2 separate regions of the Homo sapiens genome follow, and region 1 is reported to be linked to region 2. Evidence: microRNA targets listed by miRTarBase, many of them from high-throughput screens and not tested one by one. Region 2 holds a microRNA gene; the other region holds the end of a gene's coding sequence.
Evidence for each region. The annotated mature microRNA hsa-miR-6885-3p reads CUUUGCUUCCUGCUCCCCUAG and lies in region 2 at 3,122-3,142, shown strand. An mRNA with a match to its seed (bases 2 to 7 or 8) in the 3' UTR can be bound and repressed. Matches are read on the target gene's strand: a 7mer-m8 pairs with bases 2 to 8, a 7mer-A1 pairs with bases 2 to 7 and ends in A, and an 8mer does both.

Region 1 (5,000 bases), not on the chromosome of region 2:
TTTCTATGAGCTGAGGTTTCCTCAGTATAAAATTGCCTACTTCCTAGGGTGGCTGTGAGCATTATGTGAGGTGGCTCATTTGACAGTTGCGTTTACTGCCGAACCCACGGGTGAAATTCCTCCCCAGCTCGCTGTTTGTCATCCAGAATCCAGTCCACAGCTCCTTTATGTTCCTTTTGTCTCTGTCCTTTTTCAGGGCAACGGGCATGAGGAGGTAGTTGCATGCGCCTGGGATGGACAGACATATATCATTGATCACAACCGCACCGTCGTCCGCTTCCAAGTGGATGAAAATATCCGTGCCTTCTGTGCAGGTGACCCCCGCCCCCATGGCCCCTTTCTAACCACACTTAAGTTAGATAGGCGTGTTAGGCATGCCAGGGAAGTGTTTGCCCCTCACTTCCCTTTCTGACGTATCCCCTGATGTAAGTCTTCATTCACCAGTGAGTTCTTCAGCTCTTTTGTTTGGGGGTGAGGGGTGAGTGATGTAAGTCTTCATTCACCGTGAGTTCTTCAGCTCTTTTGTTTGGGGGTGAGGGGTGGTCACTACATTGCCATCTTGACAATTTTAAATAAGAAGAAATAAAAGACAGTAACATCTCCACCCCGAATATTTTAAAGAATGGAATGAGTTTCTGTCATCTGTCTGGGATGTGTGAAGACATCAGGAAGTTCTTTTCCACCTCAGCATGCCAGGTCTCTGTGAAGAAAGTTCTCCTAGAGCATTTTCATTAGTTCCAAATCAGGGGCCTTGGGAGGCAGCACTCACTCTCTGGGTGACTGGGGGATGCATTTGGAAGGAGGGATTGGCACCTAAGAGAAGCTTTACTTTCTGATCGTGTTTTGCTAGTCTCGCCCTTGGGCGAGCAATGCCATCCCTCATCACTCCAGGGATATCACTAAGATGGGAAAAGCAATAAATAGCACCTTTTTGGATGCTATTCTGCCCGGGTTTTGTTACTATGGTTTTTCTACATCTGAAGTGAGCCAGGTCTTTTCCCATCTTACTTGTTTTACTGAGTTCCCAACAGAGAAGAAATAACCTTTAATTTTTTTCCTGACATCAGTGGGAGGATGGAAAGTGCTGACTCGGAGGTCTGTGTCTTGCTGTCTGCCCCCCACTGTCGGCACTGAAACTTCCTGACCTTTATCTCCCTGCCAACATCTTCCAGGCCTGTACGCCTGCAAAGAGGGCCGCAACAGCCCCTGCCTCGTATATGTCACTTTCAACCAGAAGATCTATGTGTACTGGGAGGTGCAGCTGGAGCGGATGGAGTCTACCAATCTGGTGAAACTGCTGGAGACCAAGCCGGAGTACCACAGCCTGCTGCAGGAGCTGGGCGTGGGTGAGTCCCAGAAAAGCCAGTGGCCCGAGTGCCCAGGAGACCCACAGCATGCTGCAGGAGCTGGGCGTGGGTGAGTCCCAGAAAAGCCAGTGGCCCGGGTGCCCAGGAGACCCACAGCCTCTTACCCACCCCTTCTTGGCTCTCAGATCCTGACGACCTCCCTGTGACTCGTGCCCTGCTTCACCAAACGCTCTACCATCCAGACCAGCCACCACAGTGTGCTCCCTCAAGCCTCCAGGATCCCACCTAGCTGTACTTGCCTCATAGCTGGTGAAGGATTCTTCTGAACCCCCACCCTACCCCCTAAAGGTATCTGTGGTATTGGCAGGATAGGGAATATGCATTACAGAAATGCAGGATTTGACTCTGGGCATGAAAGATGGCAGCAGCCCTAGGGTGACCGTGAACTATAGACCTCGCAGTCTTTTCGGTGAAAGAAGAGACAAGTTGACCCTCTGCCCATTTCCTTATGGACCTCACCCATCATGCCAGCAGGGTCATAGGACCCTGGCCTTGTTCCAAATCATCTGGGACATGACCCACTCCCCACTGTCACTGTGTTGAAAACAGAGACTTGTTTGTGTGGCCCCAACACCCATAAGGAAACCAGGCTTTAGGCCCAGGGGAGCAGTGGAGGTAAGGGCTCCACCCCATCTTAAGCTCTGTCTTCCGTGGCACAATTCCAAGTTCTTGACGTTAGTAATTGTTAAAGGAATGGCAAACTGTTTTGTTTTGAAGGATCTTTCTACAGTCTGGTCTTACCCATGTTCCTAGCAACCCTGAGATGATTTTCTTCCATTTACCAAAGCAGCCGGGTCAGTGCTTTCTCACGTTGCCGTATTCTTCAGGTATTAGTCAGCTTCAGAAGCCCTGCTCCCATTTTTCCACCCACCCATTCCCCCATAAAACAGCTTATTGTCTCCAAGACAATAGACATTTAAAATGTGATGCGGGTTTATGATCCAGACCACAATCAGAATTATATCTTGGGTCATTTATGTGCCGTCTGTTCTTGATTCTCTATGCTCTAAATCGGTGTTTTTCAAACTGTGGTTGCAGTCCTTTGGTGGATTATGGCCAGCATTTTTTAAATAGGTAGAATAGAATAAAGTAAAATAGAAAATAGCAGAGTACATTGCTCTCAGTGTAGGTAAGTATTGTTTTGTTAGTCATATGTGCATGTGTGTACTGAGTGCCATGTAAAATGTATTCCTGCTGTGGTAAGCTGTGGTCGAGGAGTTTGAAAGCCATTGCTTTCAAATTCCTCTCAATTATACTGACCCTAGTCAGATGGGTCAGCCTGGGCAAGGGCCCACATTTACATTTCCTTTCTGTAAGGGACAATGGGCAATTATCACTCAGCTCTTGATAGGCAGGGAGGAAGACCAGAGAAGAACATCGACATAGAGAAACAAGAGTTTATTCCAATGGAGAAGCAGCTGAGCCGAGGGCTTGCCATTGGGCCTGGGGTCTGCAGTTACAGAAGCAGCAGGAGGCAGACAAGGAAAGGCACAGCACAAGACCCAGGAAAGTGGACCTTGTGGAGCAAGGCAGTGAGGGCGAGGAAAGCTTTTAGGATTTTGAGACCAGGTGCTATGGCACAAGTGATAAGTGAGCCCTCTCCTTTCCTTCTGAGGGCAGGGGAGGCAGCTGAGAAAGGGCAGGGGAGGCAGCTGAGAAAGGGCAGGCCAGGTGTCACAGGCAGCTCCTTGCATCCCGGTTCTTCTCTAACCCAGTCAACCCCAGGCTCAAGACTGTTTCAGCCCAACGGTCCCAGTTCCCTTGTTCAGGTTAGCTGTACCACTGTCTTTCTCTGCTCCTTTTTTGTTTGTTTTTGGAGACAGGGTCTCACTCCTTCACCCAGGCTGGAGTCCGATGGCACGAACTTGGCTCACTACAACCCCCATCTCCCAGGTTCAAGCAACTCCTATGCCTCAGCCTTCCAAGTAGCTGGGATTACAGGTGTTCACCACCATACCTGGCTAATTTTTGTATTTTTTAGTAGAGATGGGGTTTTGCCATATTACCCAGGCTGGTCTCAAACTCCTGACCTCAAGTGATCCACCCACCTCAGCCTCCCAAAGTGCTGGGATTACAGGCATGAGCCATTGCGCCTGGCCTCTTTCTTTACTCCTAATCCATGATTTGAGAGACTCAAACCAGCCAGAAAGACTCTCAGGGATCTGGCGTCTTAAGGTTCGGGTTCTTCTCTTCACAGTGAATTCAAAAAAGCCTCTGTCTCCTGACAGACCCCAAACTTTAAAAAAAAAAAAAAAGCCTCTGTCTTTTTGCTTTGGCAAAGCCTGGCAGGGGGTTAGAAAGCCACTGATTCCAGGACAATACAAGCTTAAGCTCAAGAGGCCAGAGATGGGGATAGGAAGAAGGCCTAATGAGGTGGATAGTTCTAGAAATCAGAAAGAATGCTGAATAGGTGAAGTCTGAGTGGTGACAACCTCACTGTCCTGTCTGCCTCACAGGAGCAGTTCTCTACAAGGCTCTTCCACACACACACACGCAAGGCTCAGGGGCTCGGTGGGTACAAAAAGCCAGTGGAAACGGATAAATACCTATAGCGTTAATAGCAGAAGTATGTCCAAGGTTTTGCACAGGGTAATCAAACTAACTGGCTTCAGACATTTGCAGCCACAGGAAAAAATAGCTCTCAGCCTTATGAGATGGACATTCCTATACTAACTCCCGCTCTTTGTTGTATTGAATTCTGGCTGTTTCTTCCCCCACTCAACTGTGAGCAGATGTGCACAGACTCCGAGAGGCAGACACCAGGAGGTCCAGGGACATAGGTTGGTGAGGCATGGCGGTCTAGTTGTGGGAGATAATGAGGCCCAGAAGGTGTGGTGAGAGACATGGTGGTGTGGGAAGTTGAGTTGTGTTTGGGGTGGTATTGGGTGATGGACAAGGACAGCAGTCAGCAGAGCCTTCGACCCAGCCCAAGCAGGCACCCCATTGTGCTTAGGTTCCTATCTGTGGTCTTGATTTGGCTTTGCTTTTCTTGGGAGGAAGATGAATCAGAATCCTGGCATCGTGGGCCCTCTAGTGAAAACTCGTCCTGGGGAGTAGGACAGCTGCTGAGAAGCAGAGAGGAATGCGGCCAGCTGGGGAAAATGGGACAGCAGGGGTCAGGGAGGTGATTGGAAGGGCAGACACCATAGTCCCCAGCTACCTGGCTTCAAGAGCCCCCGTTCCCCACACGCCTCTTCTTCTAAGGCAAGGTCTTTCCCTCTGGGGACTGACTGAGACAGCAGTCACTGGCCAGGCTCTTGGTACAAAGGCAGGAAGGGTAGCTCTGAGAACGGGGCTTTCAGCCGCAGCACTCCGTGCTCCAGGTCGATGCAGCACTGCGGGGTGTAGAGCAGTCATGCCAGGTCACCTCAGCCCGCCACCTGCCTCCCGGCCTGCTCCTTTTGTTCCCCCTCCCACTTCCCACAGCTTCCACCTGCCTTTTGCTCTTCCCCCATCCCCATTTCCCTAGACTCCTGTTGAAGGGGGTGACCCAGTTCTCTTGATTTTTCACTTGGTGGTAAGTAAGGAACCTCTAAGGAAGCAAAGGGACAGTTGCCCATCTCTAAGTCACTCTCATCAGAACCTGGTCCAGGTTCCACACCTGTGCCTTCTACTACTTTTTCCCAGTGCTTT
Region 2 (5,000 bases):
TTCTGGCCCTGTCTGTGGTTCTCCCTCCAGACCGGGAGAGACTTGGAGGGCAGGGCTGGGATTAAGCTGAGGCTTCTCTGGGGACAACACTGCTTTTTTGAACGAATGAATGAATGAGTGCATTAATACACGGTGATCCAGCCCCCTGGCCTAACCTTCGAGGAGTATATGGTCCCATGATGCCCAGGCCAGCTGTAAGGACATATTCCTCGTCCTGTTTCAAAGTGGTCAGGCTGTCTTTCCTTTCCAGGCCTTTGTACATCCTGTTCCTCTGCCATGAGTGCCTCCCCTCAACCCCTAAACTGTGACTCTGCTGGGTGAATTCTTGATGATTCTGCAAAACTCAACTCCAGTATCTTCCTCCTCCAGGAAATACTCCCTGCCTGTCCTCCCTCCTCCCCAAGGCTGAGTTCACAATAATCTCCACATCTTGGGTTCCCCCAAATCTTCGTCCCTCCATCTGCTCTTCTTCTGCCTGGGGTCAGGAGAGGATGGGTCTAGCTTCTCTGGCAGACTGGGAATCCTTGGAGTCTTCCGTATCCAGTGTTGCCAGGCAAAACAGGCTGAATGAAGCTGGGTGGGTTTGTTGAGTGAATTGAATTGAATTAATGATTCAATTGAATGGAATGATTGAATTGAATTAATGGTTCAATTGAATTGAGTGATTGAATTAAAGTAATGATTTGATTGAATTAACGATCCAGTTGGGTGGTTGATTGAATTAATGGTTCAATAGCATTGACTGATTAAATTAATGATTGAATTGCTGTATTGGATTGACACTACCTCTTCTCATCCACTCCAGGAATACAACCAAAAAATATAACATCATGGCTTTTAATGCAGCCGACAAAGTCAACTTTGCTACGTGGAATCAGGTAAGTCTCTGAGTCCTGGGGGTCAGGGGCTGGGGTGGTGAGAGAACTTGACCCTGACCTTGGTGGTTGTGATAGTTGCTTAACTGTCATAGTCACTAAGTCTTAATTTTCTCACTTTTCTCCAAGTGAAGAAAAGATAGATGACAAAGGGTTGGGTGCAGTAGTTCACACCTGTAATCCCAGCACTTTGGGAGGCTGAGGCAGGAAGCTTGCTTAAGGCCAGGAGTTTGAGACCAGCCTGGGCAATACAATAGCAAGACCCCAACTCTACAAAAAAATTAAAAAGTTAGTTGGGGCTGATAGCGTGGGTCTGTAGTCCTACATAGGAGGCTGAGGTAGGAGGATCGCTTGAGCCCAGGGGTTCAAGGCTGCAGTGAGCTATGATTGTACGACTGCACTCCAGCCTGGATAACAGAGCAAGACCCTGCCTCAAAAAAAAAAAAAAAAAAAAAAAAAAAAAAACGGAAATGGCAAAGGCCCAGGCCTAGCTCCTGGGTGTCCCTGTAAGTTAGGTTTGGTAGGCCCACCAGAGGCCTCTCCTTAAAGGAGAACATTTAGAAGCTGTGCCCACTGTTGGACATTTTTGGCCATGGTTTATCTGGGCAAGGGAGGGGACTGGGCTGGGGGCTTTCCCAGAGCCCCTGCCATCAGAGGCTCTAGAAAGGACTTTGGGAGCCATTAAAGCATCTTCAATTGGGAAGTTGTAGTGTGTGTGATCTGGCTGCTATGGGGAGACAAACTGTGGGTTTGAGGGCAAATAAACGGAGACCAAGGTAGAAGCAACTGGACTGGTCTAGGTGAGTCCTGGCAGGGCACTGGAGGCAGTGGAGGTTATGAGATGTGGCTGATTCTAGAGTGTTTTGGAAATGGTATATATGGACCTTAAATCAAGAGCTTAAGGGTAATTCGGATCACATTAGCCATGTAGGTCACGATAAATTGTTAATTTGTAGAGATTTTGGTGCCTTAATGTCAGCAAGTGTTGCACAATGAGTTTCTTTTTATTTATTTTATTTTATTTTTTTGTGATGGAGTCTCTTGTCATCCAGGCTGGAGTGCAGTGGCGCGACCTGGGCTCACTGCAACCTCCACCTCCCAGGTTCAAGCCATTCTCCTGCCTCAGCCTCCCAAGTAGCTGGGATTACAGGCGCCCACCACCACGCCTAGCTAATTTTTGTATTTTTAGTAGAGACGAAGTTTCGCCATGTTGGTCAGGCTGGTCTTGAACTCCTGACCTCAAGTGATCCACCCGCCTCAGCCTTCCACCATGCCCAGCCTTTTTATTTTTAGGAAATAGATATAGGATCTCACTATGTTGCCCAGGCTGGTCTTTTTTTTTTTTTTTTTTTTTTTTGGGGACTGAGTCTTGCTTTGTCGCCCAGACTGGAGTGCAGCGCCAGGATCTCGGCTCACTGCAAGCTCCGCCTCCCGGGTTCACGCCATTCTCCTGCCTCAGCCTCCCAAGTAGCTGGGATTATAGGCGCCTGCCATCATGCCCGGCTTATTTTTTGTATTTTTAGTAGAGACGGGGTTTCACCGTGTTAGCCAGGATGGTCTCAATCTCCTGACCTCGTGATCCACCTGCCTTGGCCTCCCGAAGTGCTGGGATTACAGGCGTGAGCCACCGCGCCTGGCCTTTTTTTTCTTAAGACAGAGTGTCACTCTATCACCCAGGCTGGAGTGCAGTGGCATGATCTCGGCTCACTGCAACCTCCGCCTCCCAGGTTCAAGCCATTCTGATGCCAGGCTGGTCTTAAACTCCTGAGCTCAAGTGATCCTTCTGCCTTGGCCTCCCAAAGTTCTGGGATTACAGGTGTGAGCCACAGCACAATGAGTTTCGATATGCATGCATTCTGGAGAGATGTGTGGAAATTCTAGGTACTTAGACATTTTTTGAAAAGAATCCTGGAACCAGATGCCTGCTGTAGATAATAGGGAAGTCTAATTAATTACTTCTACATTCCTCAGATAAGGAATTTTGCCTCCGATGGCCTGCTTGATGGTCACCAGGTGGTCTTTTTCTCTTTAATTTTAATTTGGAAATAATTTCAAGCTTTTAAGTTGCAAAAATAGAGCGCAAGGCTCGCCCAAATTCCCTTTACCCAGATTTGTCAAAGGCTACCGTTCTCCTCCCTTGTTGCCAAGTGGTAAGTTGGTTTTGAGAATCTAGAGCTTGGCCTAGGGCAAGGAAGGGCGTTCCTGGAGGGGGGCACTGCGCAAGCAAAGCCAGGGACCCTGAGAGGCTTTGCTTCCTGCTCCCCTAGGCTCGGCTGGAGCGGGACTTGAGCAACAAGAAAATCTACCAAGAGGAGGAGATGCCCGAATCGGGCGCGGGCAGTGAGTTCAACCGCAAGCTTCGGGAGGAGGCTCGGAGGAAGAAGTACGGCATCGTCCTCAAGGAGTTCCGGCCCGAGGACCAGCCCTGGCTGCTCCGGGTCAACGGCAAATCAGGCAGGAAGTAAGTGGTGGGGCGGTGGCGGTGCCGGCTTAGTGACCAGTCCACATCCCCAGGCCTCAACTTACATACTTTGTGGGGTACCCTCTCTGAACCTCAGATTCCCACTGCTGCAGTGGAAGTGCTGGCACTTCCATCCCTGTAGGATTTTATTATTTATTTATTTATTTATTTATTTATGTTATCTTATTTTACTTACTTGTATTTTTTTGAGACAGAGTCTTGCTCTGTCGCCCAGGCTGGAGTGCAGTAGCACGATCTTGGCTCACTGCAACCCACACCTCCCAGGTTCAAGTTATTCTCCTGCCTGAGCCTCCTGAGTAGCTGGGATTACAGGTGCCTGCCACCACCACGCCCAGCTAATTTTTGTATTTTTAGTAGAGACAGGGTTTCACCATATTGGTCAGGCTGGTCTCGAACTTGGCGATCCTCCCGCCTCGGCCTCCCGTAGTGCTGGGATTACAGGCGTGAGCCACCGTGCCCAGCCTACTTATTTATTTTGAGACAGGGTCTCACTCCGTTGCCCAGGCTGGAGTGCAGTGGTGCGATCGTAGCTCACTGCAGGCTCCAACTCCTGGGCTCGAGATCTTCCCACCTCAGCATCCTGAGTAGCTGGGACTATAGGCACGCCCCACCATGCCTGGCTAATTTTTGTATTTTTGGTAGAGATGGGGTCTTGCTGCGTTGCTCAAGCTGGTCTTGAACTCCTGGGGTCAAGTGATCCTCCTACCTTGGTCTCCCAAAGTGCTGGGATTATAGGTATGAGCCACTGCCCAGGCCCTGGGGTTGTGTTTTTGAAGACAGTTCACTGAGTTGGTGCTTGTGCCTGGCTCTGAGGCAGCTCTGAGTGCCACAATGCAGGAAGCTTAGGTGGCCAGCCCTGGGAGCTCATGACACTTGAGATGACCTCTCAGAGGGGGCAGACTGAGGGCAGAACAGGAGGGGTCCAGGTTAGGTTGATGAAGGGTGCTCCAGGCACAGCAGTTGGGTGATAGTGACAGACACAGGCAGCTCACACAGGGCAGTGGGTGCCAGGATGTGCTGGGTCCAGCGGAGCCTTGGAAAGCTGTAGGCAGGGAAGAGGCACTCACCCAGACTGTCCGGAACTTTGGGGTAGAAAAGAATGAGGTAGAGGCCTCAAGGAGGCTGGGCAGTTGTTTAGGCTTGAGGAAATGGTGGCCCGGGCCAGGTGTCCACTTCAGATTTGGCCATGCCATGGCTGGGCGCGGTGGCTCACGCCTGTAATCCTAGCCCTTTGGGAGGCAGAGGCGGGCGGATTACGTGGGGTCAGGGGTTCGAAACTAGCCTGGCCAACATGGTGAAACCCTGTCTCTACTAAAACTACAAAAATTAGCTGGGTGTGGTGGCAGACACCTGTAATCCCAGCTACTCGGGAGGCTGAGGCATGAGAATTGCTTGAACCCGGGAGGTGGAGGTTGCAGTGAGCTGAGATGGTGCCACTGCACTCCAGCCTGGGTGCCAGAGCGAGACTCCATCTCAAAAAAAAAAATTTGGCCATGCCTTCCCGCCCCATCTTCTCACTTGGCTCCTCAGTTTCCCGGGTGTGGCCCACAGATAGCAGAGCTGGAGGCAAATGTAGACAGTTTGACTGCAGGGTTGGGCTCTCCTGAGATAATCTCACACAGTCTTTCCAGAAATGATCCCGA

Region 1: miRTarBase lists NRIP2 as a target of hsa-miR-6885-3p. Seed matches in the 3' UTR shown: 7mer-m8 at 4,347-4,353 and 8mer at 3,633-3,640.

What each region holds. Positions count from the first base shown.
Region 1 is chr12:2,822,598-2,827,597 of GRCh38, forward strand. It overlaps NRIP2 (nuclear receptor interacting protein 2), which reads right to left. Exons shown (of 6, transcript NM_031474.3): 6 at 2,751-4,702. The coding sequence ends at 4,610. ITFG2 (integrin alpha FG-GAP repeat containing 2) reads left to right here. Exons shown (of 12, transcript NM_018463.4): 10 at 197-314; 11 at 1,173-1,346; 12 at 1,493-2,479. The coding sequence ends at 1,596. Among named protein-coding and RNA genes, the nearest start is that of NRIP2, 9.9 kb to the right of the region's middle. RefSeq lists a silencer at 2,526-2,820.
Region 2 is chr19:6,387,780-6,392,779 of GRCh38, reverse strand. It overlaps MIR6885 (microRNA 6885), which reads left to right and starts at 3,077; the gene lies at 3,077-3,142. It overlaps GTF2F1 (general transcription factor IIF subunit 1), which reads left to right. Exons shown (of 13, transcript NM_002096.3): 3 at 806-878; 4 at 3,143-3,336.